2 separate regions of the Homo sapiens genome follow, and region 2 is linked to region 1. Evidence: fine-mapped expression QTL. A gene starts in region 1. The other region holds a variant in brackets. All regions are shown on one strand. Distances are from middle to middle. Region 1 holds the start of IL21R-AS1 (IL21R antisense RNA 1). Region 2 overlaps GTF3C1 (general transcription factor IIIC subunit 1).

Region 1 (4,520 bases):
GACTTGGATGGGAGCACAAGAGTGGAAACACAGCTTCTGCACGGAGCAGGCGCAGCCCTCAACACCCCGTGCACCTGCACCCTAGGGACTCTTGGGTCCAGATGTGCTGTGGTTTTCACACCTTCTTGGGGGCAACAGGTTCCAGGAGCCACCTGTGGGTGCCACCTGAGCCACAGGCTCCCAGGAAAGCAGCACAGCTCTCCTGCACCCAGAGCTTGCTGGGTGGCGGAGGGGAACACAGATGGTTGGGGAAGGCCTGAGGCCAGATTGGGGGACTCTGGACTGGGGCAGATGAGGCTCCTCAGAATCCCACCTTTGAAGGGAACTCAGCTTATAAACACAGAGGAGCAAAGTTGGAGGGCCGGGCGTAGTGGCTCACACCTGTGATCTCAGCACTTTGGGAGGCCAAGGAAGGTGGATCACTTGAGGCCAGGAGTTCGAGACCAGCCTGGGCAACATAGCAAGGCCCCATCTCTACAAAAATTATTATTTTTTAAAAAAATTAGCCAGGTGTGGTGGTGCTTGCCTATAGTCCCAGCTACTCGGGAGGCTAAGGTGGGAGGATCGCTGGAGCCCAGGAATTTGAGGCTGCAGTGAGCTGTGATTACACCGTTGCACTCCAGCCTGGGTCACAGATCAAGACCCTGTCTCTTAAAAATAAAAGTTGGAGACAAGAGCTGGCTCACCTGAAAGGAGGGATTAGTAGGTAGGAGGGTGGATGGAGGATGGATGGATGTGTGGGTGGATAGGAAGATGGTATTAAGTTGGTGCAAAAGTCTTTGATATTACTCTTAATGGCTTTAATAAAAAGCTTGAAGGAAGAATGATTGGTTGGATAGACAGAGATAAATGCATACTGGAAACAAAGATAAAGATAAAACACAAGTTATACCAGGCCAGCAACTCTATTTTGTTCACTGCCTTTAGTCCCAGCCTGGCACATAGTAGGCACTCAATAAAGCCTGATTTGTAGCATTTGCTTATTTCCATGGTGTAATTTCATGCTCCTGATTTGAGTCTAAACACAGAGTTGGGAAGAGATATGCACAATCTGCCCTCCTGGCTGGTATGAGTGAGTCCCAGCTCACCGATGGTAGCCCAGAGAGAACATCAAGAGGAGTAGGGGGCTTCAGGGAGGAGGTGGTGTTGGTTGGACTTCGAAAAATGAATAGGAGGCTGGGAGTGGTGGCTCATGACTGTAATCCTAGCACTTTGGGAGGCCGAGGCGGGCAGATCATTAGAGGTCAGGAGTTTGAGACCAGCCTGGGCAACGTGGTGAAACCCAGTCTCTACTAAAAATACAAAAATTAGCTGGGTGCGGTGGCGGGTGCCTGTAACCCCAGCTACTCAGGAGGCTGAGGCAGGAGAATCTGAGAGATGGAGGTTGCAGCGAGCAGAGATCACACCACTGCACTCCAGCCTGGGTGACAGAGCGAGACTACGTCTCATAAAAAAAAAAAAAAAGGAAAAATGAATAGGCGTTGTTACATGTACCAGCTATTTGGGGCAGAGGGAAGAGCTTGGACAAAGGCCTGGAGGTACGACCAAGGGTCAGGAGCAAGTGGGACAGGCGCTCCTCGCCCTCCAAAGACCAGGCCAGAATTGCTGACAAGACTCACTGAAGAGGAAGGGGGACCGATAGCAACGTCACTTTCCCAGCTGCCGCATTCCTCACCTTGCCGTCTGCAAGCTCTGAGGGGCAGAGTCATCCGTCTGACAGATGAAATGAAGGCACAGCTCAGGCTGGTGACCTGCCTGAGGTCACACACTGAATGAGTGGTCGGAGCTGGAACCAGAACTCTGGGCTTCTGATGCCACTTTCAGCTCTTTTTCACCTTGCTCTGCTGGAACGTACCTAGATCAAGAGGTGAGGAAGGTTTAGCAGACGCCGTGGGTGCCTGCTGCATCTGCCTGTGCAGCAGTTTGGAGACGTGGCTGACCCCAGCTCTGGGAGTGGCTATGTGAACCAGGCCTGCCCAGTAGGACATTTCTTCCCCCTGGCAACAGTACAGTTTAGGGACAGACATACCCTAGCTGGTCCATGCTCTCTTTCTGCTGGGATTACTAAGCTGTAAGGAGGGTACTGGGAGGGGCAGCAAGAAACACACAAGAAAGCAGAGCTGAGAGATGGTAATAGCTCTTGAGATCCCGGATCCAGCCATGCCTGAAACCACGTTTCTCCTGGACCGTTTAGATACATGAGTATGGAAGTCATTATGCTGTTCACCATATGCTGGGCACATGGCAGGATTGTACATCCTGACCCTCTGTAGCCAGATGGGGCCATGTGACTGGCTGGGACTGGGCAGTTGTGAGCAGAAGTGATAAGTCTCACTTCTGGGCAGAGCATTTTTCAGATGGCTACCACACCCCCTGGGGTGTTTTTCCTCTGTCACAGAGACAGATGATGATGGTGACTGCTCCATCTGCCTGGGCACCTGGGTCCTTGAGCAAGGAGATACGGACTGAAGTTTCAGTTCACTTGTGATAGACGTGTATCGTGAGCAAGGAATCAATCCTTTGTTGTTCTAAGCTGCTGAGATGGGGCTGTTTGTTACCACAGCATAACCCTGCCTACCCTAGCTGAATCAATGAGCTGATAAATTTCCTTTTTTGCTTAAGCTGGTTTGAGGTGGGTTTCTGTCCCTTGCAGCAGAAAGTGTTCTAGCATTATTCTGATATTATCCCCACAGTAAGGACTCTCCTTCTATCCTAAGGAAGGACCTTGTATTAGTCCTTGTGTCACTATAAAGAAATACCAGGCTAGGCTGGGATCACGCCTATAATCCCAGCACTTTGGGAGGCCGAGGCAGGCGGATCCCTTGAGGCTAGGAGTTCAAGACCAGCCTGGCCAACATGGCAAAACCCTGTCTCTACTATAAATACAAAAATGAGTCTGGCATGGTGGCACATGCCTGTAATCCCAGCTACTCAGGAGGCTGAGACACGAGGATCACTTGAATCCGGGAGGCAGAGGTTGCAGTGAGCTGAGATGGCGCCACTGCACTCCACGCTGAGCGACAGAAAGATCCTGTCTCAAAAAATAAAAAAGAGAAATACCAGGGTCTAGGTAATTTACAAAGAGGCTTAATTGGCTCTCAGTTCTGCAGGTTGTGCAGGAAGCATGGCACCAGCATTTATTCTGGGTGAGGCCTCAGGAAGCTTCCAATCACAGCAGAAGGCTAAGGGGGAGCCTGCGTGTCACCTGGCAAGAGTAGGAGGAAGAGAGCAAAGTGGGAGGTCCCAGACTCTTTTAAACAACCAGATTGGCTGGGCACGGTGGCTGACGCCTGTAATCCCAGCACTTTGGGAGGCCGAGGTGGGTGGATCACCTGAGGTCAGGAGATCGAGACCAGCCTGAGCAATATGGTGAAACCCCATCTCTGCTAAAAAAAAAAAATACAAAAATCAGCTGGGCTTGGTGGCTTGTGCCTGTAGTCCCAGCTGCTTGGGAGGCTGAGACAGGACAACTGCTTGAACCCAGGAGGCAGAGGTTGCAGAGAGCCGAGATCACACCACTGTACTCCAGCCTGGGCAACAGAGCCATACTCTGTCTCAAACAAAACAAAACAAAACAAAAACAAACAAACAAACCCACCAGATCTCCCATGAAGTGACTGAGCGAGAACCCACTCATCACCAAGGGGATAGTGCTAAGCTGTTCAGGAGGGTCTGCCCCCATGAATCACCTCCCCGCAGGTCTCACCTCCAACGTTGAGAATCACAGTTCAACATGGGATTTGGAGGGGACAAAGAGCCAAACCATATCACCCCATTCAAAGGGCCCAGAAGACCAGGCTCCAAGGGCAAGTCATTTGCTGTCGCTGCGCCTCAGTTTTCTCTTTTATAAAGTGGAGGTTAGGAATCAGCCTCTTGGCTTGCTCCAGGAATGAAAACAGAGGGTGGAGCAAGCCCTTATTAGATGTCAGTTGTCTTAGTGTTTTTGTTTGTTTTTTGTTTTTGTTGTTTGGTTTTTAGACAGAGTCTGACACTGTCACCCAGGCTGGAGTACAATAGCGTGATCTCTGCTCATTGAAACCTCCGCCTCCCAGGTTCAAGCAATTCTCCTGCTTCAGCCTCCTGAGTAGCTGGGATTATAGGCACGTGCCACCACACTTGGCTAATTTTTGTATTTTTAGTAGAGACGGGGTTTCACCATGTTGGCAAGGCTGGTCTCGTACTCCTGACCTGAAGTGATCTGCCCGCCTCAGCCTCCCAAAGTGCTGGGATTGCAGGCGTGAGCCACCACGCCCGGCCAGAGGTGCGTTGTCTTTCTATCATCACCTTGAGCTAGGCTCCAGGTCAGAGGAGAAGAGGGCTGTGGCCCCAGCCCTTCCCAATCTCCTTCCCAGAGAGTTCATAAATGCTTCCCTCCAGATGCCTTGAAGCTTGCACTGCTTTCTGCTGGGATTCAACGAACACATAACCCCAGCTCTCCAACCATCAACAGTTCCTGCGAGATCTCAGCCTGGGATGCTGTCTGGGGGTCCCAGATGCTCTAACAAGGGAAGGAGACAGAG
Region 2 (4,000 bases), 31 kb after region 1:
TGGTTTCCAGTCTCGCCCAGTGCTGACACCTTTACTAAGCCCACTGGCAGACACTGTGGGTGTCTGTGGGTCACCTATTCCATTTTTCCCCACACTTTCTGATTAGCCAGTCTCAATTTGCTGTGGGGAGGGAGGATGCCCAGTCTCCTAGGATACACCAGGACAGTTTAAGCCACTCATGGCAGCCTGAGTCCCCTGTGCTATGTCCCACTGTTTCCCAGCCACGTGGCCCAGGTCTGCCAGGGGCTCCTGGGAAAGGCTGTCCCCTGATACAAGGGCCATGTGGGTCTATTGCAGCCCCTCTCCCCACTGCTTCCTGCTCTGGAATTCTGTTGTGAGGACTTGAGCTCTCATTGTCAACATTTGCAACCAGGGGGTGACTGGCATAGGATGGAAAGCTGACCACTGCTCCTGGAGGGGAGTGTGGCGGCAGGAACCTGGGAGCCTGATGACATCTCTGCTCCCCTGCACCAGACCAGGACTGCCTACCCTCAACTGCTTGGCATTTGGGAAAAAGGAAGCTGTATACTCTCATTAGGTTAGGTTTTTCTGTCACTTCCATCCAAAAGCATTGCTGAGCCTCCTCCCTGACCTCTGTGGGCCTGTGCCTTCCTCTTCCGGGAGCTGACTACACTGTCCTGCAATGGCCATGTACTTCTCTGTCTGTCCCACTCGCCTGTGGCCTCCTTGGCGGAAAAGGTAGCCTCTCCTTGTCCACTGGCCTCACTTGGCACAAGTCCTGCCACACACACTGTAGTGTCCAGGGTTAGCACAGAAATGAAAGATGAGCAGCCTCTGAGGCGAAGGGCAGGAGTCTGGGTCAGCAGACAGCTTCCCTCCTTGTCAGCCACCGCCTTGGCCCCTCTGGACAGAAAACTCGGAAAGAAAACCCACACCCAGTCTGCGAGCTTTCTAGGAAGCCTGTAATTTCTGAAGAAATGTTCTATTTTCTTAACAAAACAGGCCCAAGGCACAGCAGCCCTTCAAAGTGGCCTGTCAGATTCTAATCATCTTTAAAAACAGGTGTTTGAAGCCAGATCAAGTGAAGGCCAACACCAGAGAGCTGACTCGGTGATTTCTCAAGTGAGCAGGAAACAAAGTCCACGTTCCTAAGGCTGGCAGGGGCACTGTGGGATGAGAGGAGCTGACTGAAGTCTAGCTGCCCCAATCTCCCAAGCATACCAAGCCCTACACTCACACAGGACCTACCTTTGGGTCATCATAGTCACCTCTTCGATTCATGAAATCTCCAACAAGTGCTTTATCCTGGTACACCTCGGCCAGGCACACTCTGCAGGAAGAGGAGACAAAGCTGAAGTCTGGGAATTGCAATGATGCCCATGTTCAGAACCTTCAGAGAGCTCCATTCTCATGTTTCTGGCCTTGGCCGACCTTGAAGCATGAGTTACTTATATGCCTGTTGCACAACTGCAGCTTTTACGAATGAAGGATTTGGGGTCAGCCAAGCCTGACCTCAGTCAGGTCTGTTCACACTTTACACCTTGGCTTCTCTGAACTT[C/T]CGTCCTTCATAGGTAACCGAGAACACTGAGTCCCAAACTGTCTCTCACAGGGGTTTGTCCAGGACCATATGGGCTGACCTATGTGAAAGTGCATCACACATTTAAAAACATCAAACAGGCTTTGGGGTTTATTATTCTTAAGCTCTCTAATCTACTGCAAAGCAGGTGTGTCCACTCCACTAACCTTCACATCTCCATGATATAAGGAGAGCCTGACTTGCCCAAAAGAAAATGAAGGGGAAGGCGACCAGCATTTGCTGGGCTCCCGTCCACCAGGCACTGCTGCCTTCATAAAGAGCTTGCCAGGTACAGACTCATTCCGCTTTACAGCCTGGTAAGGCAAGGGGACTCCCTGAGGTCACACACACAAGGGCAGGGCAGGAAGACAGTTCTCAGCTCTGCTAAGAACATGGCAGAGGGCATCCTGTCCAATGATCCCAGGTCCTGCCTAGCTTGCTGCTGGAGGGAGCCACCAATCAGAGCTCTCAGGAACTGCTCTGAGGGCCAAAAACAGCAGGAAAAGCCAGCCTCTGCCTCTGCCTCCACCACCAGCTAGGCACGTGGTACTTAGCGAGTCAGCCTATCTAGTCTCCGCTTCTTCATCCAAAAAAAGGATACCACCACCTACTTCTCATGGCCGCTATAAGGTCTAAGCAATACCTTGCATGGGAAAGCACCCAGAATCATGCTTGGCCCTCACCCTCAAAAAACCAAGGTCCATCTCCCCAGCAGACTCCAACACTTGGCCAGCCCATCAGACACCTCAGTGTGCTCCAGCCACACTTCCCACCAGACTCTTAAGCAAACGGGATAACGTAACCGTGTCCCGGAGTGACGGGGCTTCAATGAGGCTTACTTATAGTTGAGATAGGCCTGTGGGTTTTTGACTATGTAGCGAGCTCTTCGTCCAACGGAATGAGATGTTTTATCCAAAGACTCTTCAAACGTGGCATGCAAAATGTCCCGTACCACCTGCCAGGTGACAAATGGGCCCTTCACCTGGATCAAACACAGAGCCAAGACAAAAAGTCAGTATCCTCAGAGACGACATCATGGGGAATTACCATAAAAAAGTGGACAAAATGTGTTTTGTGCAGCCTCCTTCCTCAGAGAATCCCCACAACTGTCACCTCACAATATTTACTGGGCCCACCATGTGCCAGACACTGAGGGAGATTCTGGGCAGACAAGTATAGGACGAGGCCTCAGTGACCAGCGGGAAAGAGTGTATTTTAGCAAGCGCCATGTGTGACAAAGGTGCCCAACGGGGCGGGGGGGAACTGCCTGAAAGGGCGCTGTATTAGAGGGAATCATGGGGATGCAAAGTGTGTTTAGTTAGAGGTCTTAGTGTCCTAATTATGCATCATGTGTGCTCAGAAACGTTCTGTATGTTGTGCTTGTATGTTATGTTAGTAGAAGCAGAATGTACAAAATTAGCAGACCCAGGAGAACATCTTGGTCAATAACACAGGAAGGCAAGGCCGACATGAGAAAGCCGCTTGACGAGTTATTTTCTTACATCCCCAAGGATGAGGTGACCCAAAAAGTCTGTAAGTTCTGGTAAGCGGCGAGAGTCCATCAACACTGACCTATGCAGGACCCTCCTGCCTCCTCCAGCTGCACCAGAGCTGGAGCAGATGGAGGGACGCCCCACTTACCCATCAGCTCTGCAATGACGAAGCCATTGCAGATGCAGGGAACAGAAATTAGGGATGGCAACATGTCACCTTTCAGGTTCTTCCTTGGAAAAGAGGTTGGGATGGAATTCAGGAGAGGACTGAGGGATGAGAGAACAGGGGACAAGCGGTCAAGACAAGGGATCTAATAGTTGGCAGGCAAGGAGCATCTGGGCACAAAGCCCCAGCTGGGTTTCTCCTGCCTGGCCTGGCTGAGACCCGGAGGCACACCCGGGCTCCTCCAAAGCTGCCTTGTGGCACTACTGCCTGGAAGGGGCCCTGGACTGGACTGGCAGAGCTTTTTCCTGGAAGGCAAATAAGAGGTCTCGCTGCCTTGTGGACCAGCCACGCCGGTGAGCCAAGAGGTACCAGAGGTGACAGAAACAGCATGAGAAGTATCCGGCCAAGAACAGAGAATGAGCAGGGTAATTACGCCCAATTGGCAGATCATTCCGGACATGATGGGCAGTTACAGGAAGGTAAATTGGAGCTTTTCAGGCAATGAAGGTGGGAGGAAGGAGCAGGCCAGGGTTAGACTACTGGTGAGGAGAGAGAAAGAACAGCTCTGAACTAGTTTGCCTGCAGCTAGGCAAACATTTATATGTATGCAGCTGAAAGCTAAAAAGAAATGTAGAAAAACAGAATGGTATTAATTTGTAGGATTAGCTGGTCATGGCAGGGTGCGCCTGTAGTCCCAGGACTATGAGAGGCTGAGGTGGGATCACTTGAGGCCAGGTTGAGGATGCAGTGAGCTGTGATCGTGCCACTGCACTCCAGACTGGGTGAAAGAGCAAGGCTCCATCT

Evidence for each region. PIP is the estimated chance that this variant, and not a neighbour inherited with it, causes the effect.
Region 2: its variant is the best candidate, but not a certain one, in a credible set for the expression of IL21R-AS1 in lung (GTEx, PIP 0.79).

Annotation. Positions count from the first base shown.
Region 1 is chr16:27,451,068-27,455,587 of GRCh38, forward strand. IL21R-AS1 (IL21R antisense RNA 1) reads right to left here and starts at 2,326. Exons shown (of 3, transcript NR_037158.1): 1 at 2,030-2,326; 2 at 1,676-1,855. It overlaps IL21R (interleukin 21 receptor), which reads left to right. Exons shown (of 9, transcript NM_181078.3): 9 at 1-975. RefSeq lists an enhancer at 1,734-1,833.
Region 2 is chr16:27,481,835-27,485,834 of GRCh38, forward strand. It overlaps GTF3C1 (general transcription factor IIIC subunit 1), which reads right to left. Exons shown (of 37, transcript NM_001520.4): 25 at 2,377-2,519; 26 at 1,210-1,291. Among named protein-coding and RNA genes, the nearest start is that of IL21R-AS1, 30 kb to the left of the region's middle. The variant C/T (reference allele first, on the strand shown) is at 1,520.